Linked DNA regions of Homo sapiens. The protein of the gene in region 2 interacts with the protein of the main gene of each other region in a pairwise test. Each region holds a gene or a part of one and is shown on either strand. Other genes may lie near its edges.

Region 1 (3,821 bases), on a different chromosome or scaffold from region 2:
ATGGTGCAATCTTGGCTCACTGCAACCTCCGCCTCCCGGGTTCAAGCGATTCTCCTGCCTCAGCCTCCAGAGTAGCTGGGATTACAGGTGTGCACCACCACACTCAGCTAATTTTTGTATTTTTAGTAGACATGGGGTTTCACCATGTTGGCCAGGCTGGTCTCGAACTACTGACCTCAAGTGATCTGCCCACCTTGGCCTCCCAAAGTGCTGGGATTACAGGTGTGAGACACCGTGCCCGGCCTGTTACATATATTTTACAAAAAAGAAAAAAAAGACTTCCATCCAGAAGGTATACAAATATTTTCCTATAATTTCTTCTAATATTCTCATAGTTTTTCACCATTCAGTCCTTCAATCTATCTTGTGTTGATATGTATCTGTGTATAAAGCATATGAAACACAGATCACATTTTGTCATCTTGCAGTAGTAGAAAATACCATCTACAATGCCCTATCTAAAAGTTCTCTTTTTAAAAAAATGCAGTATCTTTGAGTGGTAAGATTATGGATGATTTTTATTTATTTTTTGCTTCTCTGTATTTCTACAAGTTCTACATTGAACATGCAGTACTTATGCCATTAAAAAATATAGGAGAGGGAGCCAGGCATGGTGGCTCATGCCTGTAATCCCAGCACTTTGGGAGGCCAAGGTGGGTGGATCAATTGCAGCCAGGAGTTAGAGACCAGCCTGGTCAACATGGAGAAACCCTGTCTCTACCAAAAATACAAAAATTAGCCAGGGATGGTGGCAGTCGCCTGTTGTCCCAGCTACTCGGGAGTCTGAGGCACAAGAATTGCTTGAACCTGGGAGAGGTTGTAGTGAGCCAAGATTGCACCACTGCACTCCAGTCTGGGTGACAGAGCAAGACTCTGTCTTAAAAAAAAAAAAAAAAGGAAAAAAATTATATATATATATATGGGAGGCCTGTAATCCCAGCACTTTGGGAGGCCAAGGCAGGTGAACTGCTTGAGTCCAGGAGTTCAAGACCCAGCCTGGGCAACAAAGGAAGGCTCTGTCTCTACAAAAAAATATAAAAATTAGCCAGGCATGGTGGCACGTGCCTGCGGTCCCAGCTACTTGGGAGGCTGAGGTGGGAAGACTGCTTGAGTCCAGGAGGCTAAGGCTGCAGTGAACCGAGATCACGCCACTGCACTCCACCCTGGGCAACATAGTGAGACCTCATTTCTATTAAAAAAAATAAAATATAGCGGATAAATCACCATTCTACCTAAACCCATCAGTGAGCAGCTTAATTATCAACTAACACCTTAGCACGCATCATGAGTCCTCAGTCAGATAAAAGGAAACAATAAAACAAAATACCACCCCATACATATAGAGTAATTCATAACTTATAAAATGTTTTTATACACTATACACCTAGGCTTTTGGACAGTGAAGCAAAGAGAATAGGAAGTGGAAAGTATGGTGATATCTGAGTATTTAGTGTGTGCCAGCTATAGTGTTAGGTATCTTATATACATTATCTCATTCAATCCTCCCAACACTGAGATAAGACACTAACTCTCATCTTAGTGGTAGACATACAGGCTCAGATAAATTGATACCTTGCCCAACCAGTCATTGCTGGGGCTTGGATTTGAACCTAGGTCTATTTGCTAAGATAATAGCTAATACACATAGTTATTATGTGCCAAGAAGTGTTTTAAGGCTTTACATAAATAACTTTATTTACTCTTCATAACAATGTTACAGGCAGGTGCTACGATGATTCCATTTACAGATGAGGCAACTGAAGCACACAGAGGTTAAGGTTCCTGCCCAAGTTAATAAATCTAGTACGAGGTAAACTGGTACCTGCACCAACAGTAACTGCCAAAACCCATGTACTTTCTACCACACTGGGCTCCTTTTCTTCCTCTCTTCATTCCGGAATGGAAAAACCACATAAGGGGAAGTGAAGAGGTGGGTGGAAGCATATACTACTTACCTGCCATTATGTGGCACTAAAATTATCTCTAATTCACAGAATCTAAATAATATTGACAAAAAATTGTAACATATTATGTAATGCCTGACAATGTATAAAGTGCTTTTATATTTTATCTCATTTAATTTCCAAATAATTATGTGAAGTAGATAGAGAAGACATCCTTGATTTATAGGAAAGAAAGCTTAGAGTGGTAAAGTGACTTGTCTGAGATGATAGAAGAAAAGGTCTGAAACGAGGTGTCTGTACTTCTTATAGAGTATTATTTTCAACTATGTTGTCACCTGCAAGAAGTAGTTGAAAAGCATCCCCTCATTCTGCCGAGATACCAGCTTACCTAGGCGAGCCCTTGTCCTGGGTCCCTGCATCTGACTCCGAAGTTCAGGCCTCAGATGAAACTTCTTTGCTTCATCAACCAGATCCCTGCATTGTAAACTACAGCGGATGAAAGGCTGAAATATAGCAGACAGCAGAGTTAGGCACTGGGGATACCTGTAATACTATAAGAGTACAAAGAGCACATGCAAATAATTAACTTCTGACTACAGAAAACCAGTTTGCAAAGCCCTGTGATTCCAGGAGTATTGCTGGTAGTAACCATGCTCTCGGTTTCCAGAAATGATTTTTAAAATTTACTTGAAAAATAGATAACATACTAGATGGATCAAAAATCAAATGATATAAACAGATATGTTGAGCAGTATTTCCCATCTATCGCAGCGCTTACATTTAACTATTTTTACATAGTTTGGATGCCCTTCCAGGGATTATGCAAACACAAGTACATAATAACTAATAAGAATTTTAAGGGGAAAACCAAAAAGATTCTGTTATTTTCTGGGTGACAGGAAGAATCATATTTTGTCTGAAATATCTCCCCCAAGGTTCACAGTCCTGTTGTAATTACCATTGTCTATTTCTGACAGCTCTGTACTGGACATCTTTCATTTGCCTCCCAACTCACTCTGTACCTTTTTCCACTCTGCTCTCTGGCTCAGAAGACTGGCCTATATGAACTGTGTCAATAGGGCTTCCTATGCCTTCTAGCTTCTGGTTGGGATCAGCCCAACCAAAGGTCAAGGTTTCTCTCAAGGCAGTGACTCTACACGATTCTCTTTCCTTTAAGGTTCTAGTAACCACTCCTCAACCTTGTCCCTTCAGGCTTAGGGGTTGTTAATAGCTTATGTCCTAGATCCAGGTTATTTCACTGTCTTTTGTTGTTTCTCTGAACTTGCGCCTTTGTAAACAGCTTCTTTATTAAAAAAAACTCTTCTAAAATTGTCCTGTTTTGAGTATAGCATCTGTTTCCTGTTGGGACCCTAAAGGACACAGCTCTAATTAAATGGCACCTCTATTAACCTGACCCAAGAAGTTCTTAGTCGAACTGGAAAGGAAAACAAACAATAAATAGTAGTAAACACTTATGTACAAAGACTTGGTTTTAAAAGTTTTCACATAGTAACTTACTCAATGCTAACAAGAACCTATGAGGAACGTACTATTATCATCCCTGTTTTACACATAAGAAAGCTAAGGCACAAATATATTAAGACATATTAAGTTCACAGAGTAAGTGGTGAATTTGGGATTTCAGGCCCGAGTCTGGTTCCAGAGTCTGTGCTCCTAAACACAATGTAAAGAACTAGACACAAGGGATATGTGAATTGGTTGTAAGAAAGACAGAAATCACAAACAGGAGAAAAAGAGTTTGAGATGTGACACTGACCATGCTGCAACTTTTCTAATGTGAACAACTGAAAAACTGTTTGTAGTTAACTAAGAGATCTAGGGCTGGGCCAGCAAGAGGAACTCTTCTTGCTGGGTTACCTACATATTATAAATCAATGCTCCCTCGAAGTATGGTCC
Region 2 (3,821 bases):
TCCGTCTCCTGGGTTCAAGTGATTCTCCTGCCTCAGCCTCCCAAGTAGCTGGGACTACAGGTGTGCGCGACCATACCCAGCTAATTTTTCTATTTTCAGTAGAGACAGGGTTTCACCACGTTGGCCAGGATGGTCTCGATCTCTTGACCTCGTGATCCGCCCACCTCGGCCTCCCAGAGTGCTGGGATTACAGGCGTGAGCCACCGTGCCCAGTCTCTTTTTCTTCATAAACAGGATCTCGCTCTATCATGCAGGCTAGAGTGCCGTGGCATGATCGTAGCTCACTGCAGCCTCAAACTCAAGCGATCCTTCCACCTCAGCCTGCTGAGTAGCTGGGACTACACCCAGCTAATTTTTTTGACTTTTAATAGAAATAGGGTCTCACTATGTTGCCCAGGCTGGTCTTGAACTCCCGGCCTCAAGCAATCCTCCCACTTTGGCTTCCCAAAGTGCCGGGATCACAGGCAATAGCCACCGTGTCTGCCATGGTATGCAGATTCTTAGGGACATACATGTCCTCAAAAAAGTGTAGGCTGGGTGCGGTGGCTCACACCTGTAATCCCAGCACTTTGGGAGGCCGAGGTGAGTGCATTGTTTGAGCTCAGGAGTTCGAAACCCACCTGGGCAACATGGCGAAACCTCATCTCTACTAAATAAAAAAAATAGCAGGGCATGGTGGTGCACACCTGTGGTCCTAGCTACTTGGGAGGCTGAGGTGGAAGGATTGCTTGAGCCTGGGGGAGGGGTGGAAGTTGCGGTGAGCTGAGATTGCACCGCTGCACTTCAGCCTGGGTGACAGAGCAAGAAGACCCTGTTTCAAATAAAAAGGGGTGTGATGTGATTGCACCCTAGATGACCCATGGGCAAGCAGTTACACAGGTCCAAATCTGAGCACGAGTCGGATTTATGAGTGATCACCCAAACAGGGCCGTGCAGATGCATGCAATCCCCTGGATGGATACCCCGGGCGCTCAGTGTGCCTCCTGTATACACTCCTGGCCCCACAATCCTGTGTGTACACATGTGCATGCACACACACGTGCACACACACAGAGCCTGGGTGCCCGCAGGCCCGCATGCACACACAAGCCGTCTTGGTACCTTGGTGCTGGGGCCCTGGGGCCCTGGAGAGGCCGGGGGACTGCCAGCAGGAGCATCTCTGCTTCTAGGACTTGAGGGGGGTGACCCTGGGGACACACTGGGGGAGATGCAGAGGCTGAGGTGGGGTGGCTGTGCTGACTCCTGATCCCATGATCCCCAGTCCCATCACCAAGCAGAATGCTCACCTGGAGGTGGGGGATGAGGGGTCCCCGGGACTCCCACTAGGTGATGAGCTTTTCTCTCGGGCAAGCTTCCTAAGGATGGGGACAGGGGATGAGGCTAAGGCAGGAGCAGCCCTTGCTGATATCTGCCCACATCACCGCCCCTACACACACCCCGAGACTCACGCACTGAGACGCTTGGTGAGGCTGATCCGCCGTCGGATGCGTGGGGAGCTGGGGCAGGAGGCAGCTGGTGGCTCAATGACCCGGGAGAGCCGGTAGCTGAGGGGTCAATATGTGGATGAGGTGGTGGGGGCAGGAAATACAGGGGATGGAGAGATAAGAGTTGGAATCAGTTGGGAGGTGGGTTTGGGGTGTAAGGGGGAGCAGCCAGAGGTGGCACCCCACATGCCAGGGTCAGGGTGGTAAATGAGGGTCATTGAGCATCAAGGTCTTATCAGAGATGGGACAGGATGGCTGGTCAGGAGGTCACAAAGAGATTCACAGGGTGGCACTAAGGAATCAAATTGGGTCAGGATTAAAGTCAGGGTCAGGACTGGGTGCAGTGGCTCACGCCTGTAATCCTAGCACTTTGGGAGGCTGAGGCGAGAGGATTGCTTCGGGTCAAGAGTTCGAAACCAGCCTGGCCAATATAGTGAAACCCCGTCTCTACTAAAAATACAAAAAAAATTAGCCAGGTGTGGTAGCTCGCGCCTGTAATTGCGGCTACCGGGGAGGCTGAGGCAGTAGAATTGCTTGAACCTGGGAGGCGGGGGCTACAGTGAGCCGAGATCACTCCACTGCACTCCAGCCTGGGAAACAGAGCCAGACTCTGTCTCAAAAATAAATAAATAAATAAATAAATAAATAAATAAATAAATAAATAAAATAAAGTCAGGGTCAGACTGGGGTCAGGTCACCATTGGGGTCAATGGTTAGGGTCACAGTTATATAGAAAGAAAGGACACAGTTGTCATAGTCAAGCTGGACAGTCAAACATAAAAGTTGGAGTCAGTTACTCAGAACTGAGGGTCAAGGGTTGGGGTCAGAGAGTCAGATGAGGGGTCATGAATAAGGTCATGGGTCAGATAGGACCAAAGATGGGGAAGTCAACAGATGGGACAGTTGAGTTGAATGGCCAGCTGAATGCTAAAGTTGAGGTCAGAAAATCAGATGGGGTTGAAATTGAGGTCAGAGGTCAATTGTGACTATTTTTTTTTTTTTTTTTTTGAGACAGGGTCTCACTCTGTCACCTAGACTGGAACTGCAGTGGCGTGATTTTGGCTCACTCCAACCTCTGCCTCCCAGGCTCCAGCAATCCTCCCACCTCAGCCTCCCAAGTAGTTGGGACCAACGGCACTCAACACCACATTCAGCTAATTTTTTTTTTTTTTTTTTGAGACGGAGTCTCGCTCTGTTGCCCAGGCTGGAGTGCAGTGGCACCATCTCGGCTCCCTGCAAGCTCTGCCTCCCGGGTTCACGCCATTCTCCTGCCTCAGCCTCCCAAGTAGCTGGGACTACAGGCGCCTGCCACTACACCTGGCTAATTTTTTTTTTGTATTTTTAGTAGAGACGGGGTTTCACTCTGTTAGCCAGGCTGGTCTCAAACTCCTTACCTCATGTGATTCACCCGCCTCGGCCTCCCAAAGTGCTGGGATTACAGGTGTGAGCCACCGTGCCCAGCCACGTTCAGCTAATTTTTGTATTTTTTTGTAGATATGGGGTTTCGCCATGTTGCCCAGGCTGGTCTCGAAATCCTGGGCTCAAGTGATCCACCCACCTTGGCCTCCCAAGTGCTGGGATTACACGAGTAAACCACCAGGCCCAGTCTATTTGATTCGACTGGAGATACTGCAAGGTCACAGGTTGTAGTGGGGGATCAGGGCTCAAGAGGGGGTCTTGGGAGGAGCTGGAGGTGTGTATGGAGTGGGTGGAATCCAGTTGGTGACCCAGGCTCAGCTGGGGTGGGGCTGGGACAGGCTACAGGGTGGTCACCTCTGCTCCTCGGTGAGCTGGTTCTGGGCATGCAGGGCAGCCAGGATGGGCGGGTGGGGGCTCAGGGTGTAGCTCTGACAGCGCCTCTGCAGCTGCTGGATGCGGGCCAGGATCTCCCACTCCTGGAGGACGAGCCTCTAAGACCCTACCCCTGCCCCACCCCCACCCTCAGGCACCACCACACCCACTGTAGCCTCCACTCACCTTCCTCCTCTTCTCAAAGTTAATGAGATCCCCCTGGGGGCAAAGTGTGTCTGAATTGCAGCACCCAGGGTCAAGGGTCAAGGGTCAAGGTCAGGGGCTGGGATGTCAGGAGCCCCACTGTAGTAAGGGAGTGTGGGGTGGTGTCAGGAGTACAGGTAGGATCAAGGGTGGATATTGGGAGGCCCATTGTGCTGGGGGCAAGTGGAGCTGGGGTCAGGGGTCAAGGGTCAGGGGTCAGACCTCCAACATATCCGGCAGGGCTGTGTCCAGCATAACCAGGTCCGTAAGGAAGGTGCCAAGGTAGGGGACAGGGCCTGGGGGTGGTTTCTGCAGCCCCCAAAGCTCCAGTCACTTGGGGCC

The links.
Region 1: the proteins of RGL3 (region 2) and KLHL12 interact in binary tests that used the Homo sapiens proteins (3 or more experiments, as listed by UniProt).

What each region holds. Positions count from the first base shown.
Region 1 is NC_000001.11:202,906,718-202,910,538, forward strand, and holds part of KLHL12 (kelch-like protein 12), read right to left. Parts: intron 2,408-3,821; coding exon 2,293-2,407; intron 1-2,292. UniProt on the Homo sapiens protein: Substrate-specific adapter of a BCR (BTB-CUL3-RBX1) E3 ubiquitin ligase complex that acts as a negative regulator of Wnt signaling pathway and ER-Golgi transport.
Region 2 is NC_000019.10:11,398,754-11,402,574, forward strand, and holds part of RGL3 (ral guanine nucleotide dissociation stimulator-like 3), read right to left. Parts: intron 3,789-3,821; coding exon 3,702-3,788; intron 3,495-3,701; coding exon 3,462-3,494; intron 3,380-3,461; coding exon 3,258-3,379; intron 1,545-3,257; coding exon 1,449-1,544; intron 1,356-1,448; coding exon 1,287-1,355; intron 1,217-1,286; coding exon of another isoform or gene 1,199-1,216; coding exon 1,102-1,198; intron 1-1,101.